Regions from separate parts of the Homo sapiens genome. Here all the other regions are linked to region 2. The links come from fine-mapping of genetic effects on gene expression. A gene starts in region 2. Each other region holds a variant in brackets. All regions are shown on one strand. Distances are between the middles of the regions.

Region 1 (2,760 bases), 26 kb after region 2:
TGCCACAGCTTCTTTTTTTTTTTCGAGACGGAGTTTCGCTCTTGTTGTGCAGGCTGGAGTGCAATGGCGAGATCTCAGCTCACTGCAACCTCTGCCTACCGGATTCAAGTGATTCTCCTGCCTCAGCCTCCCGAGTATCTGGGATTACAGGCGTGTGCCACCATGCCCAGCTAATTTTGTATTTTTAGTAGAGATGGGATTTCTCCATGTTAGTCAGGCTGGTCTTGAACTCCTGACCTCAGGTGATCTGCCTGCCTTGGCCTCCCAAAGTGCTGGGATTACAGGCGTGAGCCACTGTGCCCGGCCTGCCACAGCTTTTTGCCTCGCTTCCCTGGGCTCCAGACTGGACATCTCCAACAATCTTTCACATGGCAGTTAGGCAATCTCATGCTTAAAATCTTTGGACTCACTTGTGCCAAGTCCAGAAGCCTTGTTATGACCTGCAAGGCCATGATTAACCTGACCCTGCAGCTGGCCCCTGCGGCCTCATCTCCTGCCCTTCCTCAGTGCTCACAGCCCGGCCACGTGGCCTGCAGGTAATGTTCAGAACACCGAGTGATCTCCCGCCTCCACGCCCTTTGCTCTTGGTGCTTGCTGTGCCTGGAGTGTTGTTCCTGGGGTCTCCACCTAAAGACCACCTACTCGTCCAAGGTGAGGGCAATTGCTCTTCCAACTCTGTCAGGCTGTGTTGAAAGAGCTTCTTTGTGCTTCTGCACGTGGTCAAAAGCAAGGTCTGTGTATTAATAGAACCCAACATCTGTTAGGCTGTGGAGTTGAATACCCATTATCTCATTTGGAAAGTGGGCATTACTATTTCCATTTAAAAAATTTATTTATTTATTTATTTTTTGAGACAGAGTCTCTCTCTGTCGCCCAGGCTGGAGTTCAATGGCACGATCTTGGCTCACTGCAACCTCTGTCTCTGGGTTCAAGTGATTCTCCTGCCTCAGCCTCCCAAGTAGCTGGGATTACAGGCGCCTGCCACTGTGCCCGGCTATGTTTTGTATTTGTAGTAGAGATGGGGTTTCACCACGTTGGCCAGGCTGGTTTCGAACTCCCGACCTCAGGTGGTCCACCTGCCTTGGCCAAAGTGCTGGGATTACAGGCGTGAGCCACTGCGCCTGGCCTTTTTTCTTTTCTTTTTCTTTGAGATGGCGTCTTCCTCTGCCACCCAGGCTGGAGTGCAGTGGTGCGATCTCAGCTCACTGCAGCCTCCGCCTCCTGGCTTCAAGCGATTTTCCTGCCTCAGACTCCCGAGTATAGCTGGGACTCCAGGCGCCTGCCACCATGCCTGGCTATGTTTTGTATTTGTGGTAGAGATGGGGTTTCACTATGTTGGCCAGGCTGGTCCTCAACTCCTGATCTCAAGTGATCCGCCCGCCTTGGCCTCCCAAAGTGCTGAGATTACAGGTGTGAGCTACCGTGTCTGGCCCTATTATTTCCATTTTATACATAAGGAAACTGAAGTTCAGAGGGGATTGCTGACTTGTTGAAGGCTGATCATTATGGGTTACAGAGAAGACTTGAAACCCACACGCTCAACTCTAAACTTACTGTG[A/C]CTTCCTCATTTGTACAATCATCACAAGAACATGCATTCAACATTCTTCGGACACCAGCCTCTGTGCTAGGCGACCACAACACTTTGAAGACAGAAGCAGTCCTGTGTACTGTGCACCTCTGCCAATATCTGTTTACAGGAGATAGCTGCCATGTCCCTGTCCACCCTCCCTTTTCTCTCCTGGCGATTGCGATATTGGAGTTTTAGGACACAGCCAGAGCACTTGTCATTTGTTCCTGTTGGACACCATTTTTAGGATTATCCCAAGAGCTCTGGCTGTTTCTGCTCTTCCTCCCAACATGTGCTTATCCACAAATCTGAGCACTGGACCTCTGCAACTTCATCCAAGTCACCCATAAACCTATGGATCACAGCAGACCAAGGAAAGGGCGTGACCTACACCCTTAACAGACAGACACATAACCGAGTTTTGAGCTTCCCAGCCAGATGTATCTTTAGTTCACATTTCTCTGGCTGGGCTTAGCTGGGCCCTCCCAAGTTTCCTACACATAGATTTGGGGTGGCGGCCCTGGGCACCTCAGGAAGGTGAAGCCACTTGGGATCGGGCTGTGTATGCTCAGCACCCAGCATGGTGCCTGGTACTCAGTGGGTACCCAGAGAAGGCTTGTTGAATGGAGCAATGGGTGACTTGTTATTAGGGAACCCATTTTGGTCCATTCTGATTACTTCCTCTTCTCACCTCCAATAGGGAATTTTCCAATCAGTCCCTGACCCTTTGCTCCTTTCACATTTATTGTATCTACCTCCATGATCTTTTTTTTTTTTTTTTTTGAGATGGAGTCTTGCACTGTTGCCCAGGCTGGAGTGCAATGGCAGGATCTCGGCTTACTGCAACCTCTGCCTCCTGGGTTCAAGCGATTTTCCTGCCTCAGCCTCCGGAGTAGCTGGGATTATAGGCGCCTGCCACCACGCCCAGCTAATTTTTTGTATTTATAGTAGAGATGGGGTTTCACTATGTTGGCTAGGCTGGTCTCGAACTCTTGACCTCAGGCAATCCACCTGCCTCAGCCTCCCAAAATGCTAGGAGCCATGATCTTGATTAGTGCCCATGAGGACAAATAATTCCCAGTCTACATTCAACCTATAGCTTTCTCCTGGTCTGTAGATCCTCATCTATCCACTTCTCTCATCCTCTTAACTCCTTCATCTCTCTCAGGCTGTTGAAAGAGCTTCTTTGTGCT
Region 2 (2,760 bases):
AGCTACGGAAACGTGGAGAGGACCCACTCACTCCGTCCAGCAGTAGGACTTGTCATCATCCACACGAACAACACCACAGGTAGGGTTGTTTGTGATCATTCACGCACACACACATTTAGCCCTCCAGAATTTGACCACCAAGGAAGTACCTTACCGGCTCCCTCGGCTTCTTCCTTTGTCTGTGCACAGAGTTGTCTCTGCAGTGTGTGAGGATGCTTTACCCTAGGTTGCCTGCTGGTTTCTTTTCACATTGCTGAGAGCTCAGGTTATTTCTTGCACTGGGTGAGTCCTGATTTCTCACCCCTGAGGCCATCACAAGAGGGTGGGGCATACCTCCTCAGGAGAGAGAACCAGAGACTGCCCCTGAAGGGGAATGTAATCACGAGCAAGCCCCCAAATTGTTATAAATAAAGTTTCCCCCCAGTGCCGCAAAAGAAATAGCACTCGAATATAAAATTTTCTTTTTTTTCTTCTCAGCAAGGCAATTTACTTCTATAGAAGGGTGCGCCCTCACAGACGGAGCAAAGGTGAGCGCACACCTGGACAAGGGAGGGGAAGGTGGTTCTTATGCCTGACCCACGTGATTCCTGATGCTGTGTCCTTCCCCTGTTGGCTAGGGTTAGACCTATAGGCTAAACTAATTCCGATTGGCTAATTTAAAGACAGTGAGGGGGTGAGTGGTTTGGCGGGAAAAATGGTTACCGCAGAGCAGGAAATCGGAATGAACCACGGTGAAGAATGAGTGAGGGAGGAGCAGGTAATCGAAAAATGTTGCTTTATGAGGAAGTTAAGTTTAAAAGTAGAAGGCAAAGAATTGAAGATACTGACATATTGATTCTTTTAAGATAAATTTAGAACTCATATCTAACAGCTGGCATGTCTGGCATGGGGCTCCGGCTGGGGCGCAGTCTTCAGCATTTGGGGCTCTGGGGTGCAGGGGGCAGAGGACGGCCGGGGCTGTGGTGCCCAACCGGTGCTAAACTCAAGCTTGGGAGGTCGCCCACGAGAAACAGTCGCCCTTCCCCACCCGCCTGCTCGGCTTGGCGGGGAGCGGGATGTCGCTGGGGGCGATGCCAGGCGGGCCGCCTCTGATAGCCTCTAGGCTCTGGCGCGCTTCCCCGCCCCTCCCGCGCAGGCGGGCGTGGGATCCCGGCTGATCCAGTCCGGGTTTTGCGGCGGAGCGGGCGGGCTGCGCGTGCGGCGGCTTCAACTGTCGCGGTAGGCAGCAGCAGGCTGAAGGGATCATGGTGCAGTACGAGCTGTGGGCCGCGCTGCCTGGCGCCTCCGGGGTCGCCCTGGCCTGCTGCTTCGTGGCGGCGGCCGTGGCCCTGCGCTGGTCCGGGCGCCGGACGGCGCGGGGCGCGGTGGTCCGGGCGCGACAGAGGCAGCGAGCGGGCCTGGAGAACATGGACAGGGCGGCGCAGCGCTTCCGGCTCCAGGTGACTGCCGGAGCGTAGTGGGATGGGCGCGGCCTGAGGGTACTCGCAGCGGCACTTTCAGCCGCCGGACCCGCCGAGGGACAGGGGATGGGGCGGGCAGAGCAGATGTGTAACTCTCCAGAATCTCTCCTTGCCCTAAGATATTCCGCACTTTCTGAGCCAGGTAGAGCACGGGGGAAGAAAGGAAACGGTAGTGTCAAGGCAGGTGGTGGAAGGCCTTTCCCTCACTGGGTCAAAGAGGAGTTTTGCTTTGTGCCAAAGAATCTCACGATTGCTGCCTATTGGAATGCGAAAACGCAAGCGTGACAACCAGTGGGATGCCAGGGGTTGAGGACTTTGGAATCGCAGAGTGTAATGGCCAAGGGGATCTGGAGAGCTTAGAGTTTTGTTTTTTGTTTTTTTTTGTTTTGTTTTGAGACGGAGTCTCGCTCTGACTCCCAGGCAAGAGTGCAGTGGTGCGATCTCGGCTCACTGCAACCTCCGCCTCCCGGGTGCAAGCGATTCTTGCTGCCTCAGCATCCCCAGTAGCTGGGATTACAGGGGCCCGCCACTACGCCTGGCTAATTTTTGCATTTTTAGTAGAGACTGGGTTTCACCATGTTGGCCAGGCTGATCTCAAACGCCTGACCTCAGTTGATACACCTGCCTCGGCCTCCCAAAGTGCTGGGCGTGAGCCACCGCGCCTGGCTGAGTTCAAGCTTCTTGATTTGTGCATTTGGATCCTAAGAGGGAGCCAGAAAGAAACCTGCCAAGTGCACAGGGAGATCTTGGCAAAGCCAGGCTAGAAGGGAAGTCTCTCTGGCTCCTGCTGTGGTGTCCAACCCCTGGCAAGCCCTTTCCATGAGCAGGTTTAGTTCCAGCCCTCCGTGGGTGGTCTGTCAACAAGCTTTTCTCCCTGCGCTGCCTTTGGATCACCTCAGTATGTGGGTTTGGAGGCGTGGAAGGGCCTGGCTGAGGGTTTGGAAGATGTGGCTTGAAGAGGGGCTTTTCCTCTGGGTGTGTGAAACACTGACCCCAGTTAAAGCCTTCTTATGTGCTGAGAGAGGGAGGGCTTGCTGTATCTGTGGGACCTGACAGGTGGGAAGGCTTTACAGGTTGGGAACCGCAGGACTCAGGAGGGTGTGCCTGGGTGGGAGACAGAAAGAGTCACAGAAAATTGTGTTCAGCAGATGTTCCGCAAGTGATTTTTGAGTTGGGGCAGAGCTGGAACTAGAACCTAGGTGCCCGCTGCACTCTGCAGCCACACTTTCGTGGAGAGGAACAGGAGAGAGATATGAGGAAGGCACCTTGCATGCCAGCCCAGGGTGTAGCCCTGCATGTT
Region 3 (2,760 bases), 910 kb before region 2:
ACCCTGCACAAGTCTTAGTTATTATAGTCATCATATAGTATTTTAATTGTTGCTTATCATCTCTTTCACTGGACTATGAGCTTCCAGACTATGAGCTCTTTTAGTTCAAGCTAAGGGCTTGGACTCAAACTTACCTTCAAACTATGGCAATACAAAGTATAATACTACAATATTGAGTCAAAATGTACAGTGGAGAAAAAGCAAAATAAATAGGACATCGAGATTCCACATTTTCAATGTAAAAAACATACTCCTTCTTTCATTCACTCAGCCAACATATATTTATTTAGCACCTCTTACGGGCCAGGCACTATGCCAAATCCTGGAGAGATGGTGACGACAATATAGACATACACAGACAAATAATTCTGAGAGGATACAGTCCAAAATGTTAACAATGGTTTTTAACTTTTTTTTTTTTTTTTGAGACAGAGTCTCACTGTGTGGCCCGCTCAGGCTGGAGAGCAGTGGCACAATCTCAGCTCACTGCAACCTCTGCCTCCTGGGTTCAAGCAATTCTCCTGCCTCAGCCTCCTGAGTAGCTAGGATTACAGATGCACACCACCATGCCCAGCTAATTTTTGTATTTTTAGTAGAGACGGGGTTTCACCGTATTGGCCAGGCTGGTCTCAAACTCCTGACCTCACATAATCCGCCTGTCTCAGCCTCCCAAAGTGCTGGGATTACAGGGGTGAGCAACCATACCCAGCCTGTTTTTAACTTTTTGAATCATGGGCAAATTATGAATAATGTGTATCTTCTCCTTTAAAATCTCTATTTTCCAATTCTTCCTTAATGAATATGCATTACTTTTATAATCGCCAAAAAAATTTTTAACATCCTTCCAAAATACAAATTCCTAACAAACAGTAGCAATACAAAACCCAAAGTAAATACTATGTAATGTGAAAGTGAAACAAATGTTGAGAACTTTTAGTCAGATTCTAGTTACACCTAATACAAAGAATAATAGGACTAAGTATAAAAAATACTTTATGATTTCCATAGTGAAATCATTGTGGAAGTCATTGTGAAGAAGATTCCATGAAATTGTCCAAGGAAAACACTGACCACAAGATCAATACCACCCTAGTTTTCCATACTGCAGAAAGAAAAAAAAAATTTTTTTTTTTTGGAGACGGAGTTTTTGCTCTTGTTGCCCAGGTTGGAGTGCAATGGCTCAATCTCGACTCACTGCAACCTCTGCCTCCTGTGTTCAAGCAATTCTCCTGCCTTACCCTCCAAAGCAGCTGTTACAGGCATGCGCCACCACGCCCAGCCCCCCCAAAAAATTATATTATTCTATTTTATTTAATTCAGAGGAAGAGAGAATAGCCTCCACACTTGTTCCAAAGACAAATTAATAAATAACACCATATTTAATCTGTATAATGATTTACAGTTTACAGTTCACAGAGCATTTTGATCTTCACAATAATTGTTTTCTTGTTCCCATCGGA[T/G]AGATTAAAAAAATAAAGGACTGAAATGCAGAAGGCCCTTCTTTTTTTTTTTTTTTTTTTTTTTGAGATGGAGTCTCACTCTGTTGCCCAGGCCAGAGTGCAGTGGCAAGATAGATCTCGGCTCACTGCAACCTCCATCTCCCTGGTTCAAGCCATTCTCCTGTCTCAGCCTCCCGAGTAGCTGGAACTACAGGCGCATGCCACCACACCCGGCTAATTTTTGTATTTTTAGTAGAGACGTGATTTCACCATGTTGGTCAGCTGGTCTCGAACTCCTGACCTCAGGTGATCCACCCGCCTCAGCCTCCCAAAAAGTGCTGGGATTATAGGCGTGAGCCACCACGCCCAGTCAGGCTCTTCTATCTTTTTTACTCAATATCCAAAAGCTATAAAAGAAAAGACTGAGGGCCGGGCATGGTGGCTCACACCTGTAATCCCAGCACTTTGGGAGGCCGAGGTGGGCGGATCACAAGGTCAGGAGTTCGAGATCAGCCTGGCCAATAGGGTGAAACCCCATCTCTATTAAAATATAAAAATTAGCTGGGCGTGGTGGCACACACCTGTAGTCCCAGCTACTCAGGAGGCTGAGGCAGAAGAATTGCTTGAACCTAGGAGGTGGAGGTTGCAGTGAGCCAAGATTGCGCCACTGCACTCCAGTGTGGGCAACAGAGCAAAACTCAGTCTCCAAAAAAAAAAAAAAAAGAAATCTCACTTCTGTGAATTTATCCCACAAATATCCTTGCACACATATAAAATGACACATTCAAAGGCCCTTTTTACAGCATTGTTTATAATATCAAAACACTGGAAACATAAATGTCCATTATAAGGAATTAGTTAAATAAATTATGATACATCCATTCAATGGAATACTATGCAGGTGATTAAAAAGAAAATAATAATAATAATAAATGAATAAATAAATAATATATATATAGGCCACAGTGGCTCACACTTGTAATCCCAGCACTTTGGGAGGCCAAGGTGGGTGGATCACCTGAGGTCAGGAGTTCGAGACTAGCCTGACCAACATGGTTAAACCCCGTCTTTACTAAAAATACAAAAATTAGCCAGGTGTGGTGGTGCACACCTGTAATCCCAGCTACTCAGGAGGCTGAGGCAGGAGAATCACTTGAACCCGGGAAATGGAGGTTGCAGTGAGCTGAGATCGCACCACTGCACTCCAGCCTGGGTGATGAAGTGAGATTCTGTCTCAAAAAAATAATAATATATATAACCAAAAAAAAAGAATGAGGAAGCTCTCTATGTACTGATCTGGAAAGGTCTCTAAGATATATAA

Evidence for each region.
Region 1: its variant is fine-mapped to the expression of FAAH in esophagus mucosa (GTEx, PIP 0.92).
Region 3: its variant is fine-mapped to the expression of FAAH in whole blood (GTEx, PIP above 0.99). The same link has a PIP of 0.9 or more in cerebral cortex, fibroblasts, left ventricle, lung, subcutaneous fat and tibial artery.

What each region holds. Positions count from the first base shown.
Region 1 is chr1:46,418,710-46,421,469 of GRCh38, forward strand. No RefSeq gene overlaps it. Among named protein-coding and RNA genes, the nearest start is that of FAAH, 26 kb to the left of the region's middle. RefSeq lists an enhancer at 1,498-1,547. The variant A/C (reference allele first, on the strand shown) is at 1,559.
Region 2 is chr1:46,393,105-46,395,864 of GRCh38, forward strand. FAAH (fatty acid amide hydrolase) reads left to right here and starts at 1,213. Exons shown (of 15, transcript NM_001441.3): 1 at 1,213-1,439. The coding sequence starts at 1,245. RefSeq lists an enhancer at 1,101-1,614.
Region 3 is chr1:45,478,313-45,481,072 of GRCh38, forward strand. The region is part of intron 1 of TESK2 (testis associated actin remodelling kinase 2); the gene reads right to left. Among named protein-coding and RNA genes, the nearest start is that of TESK2, 11 kb to the right of the region's middle. The variant T/G (reference allele first, on the strand shown) is at 1,461.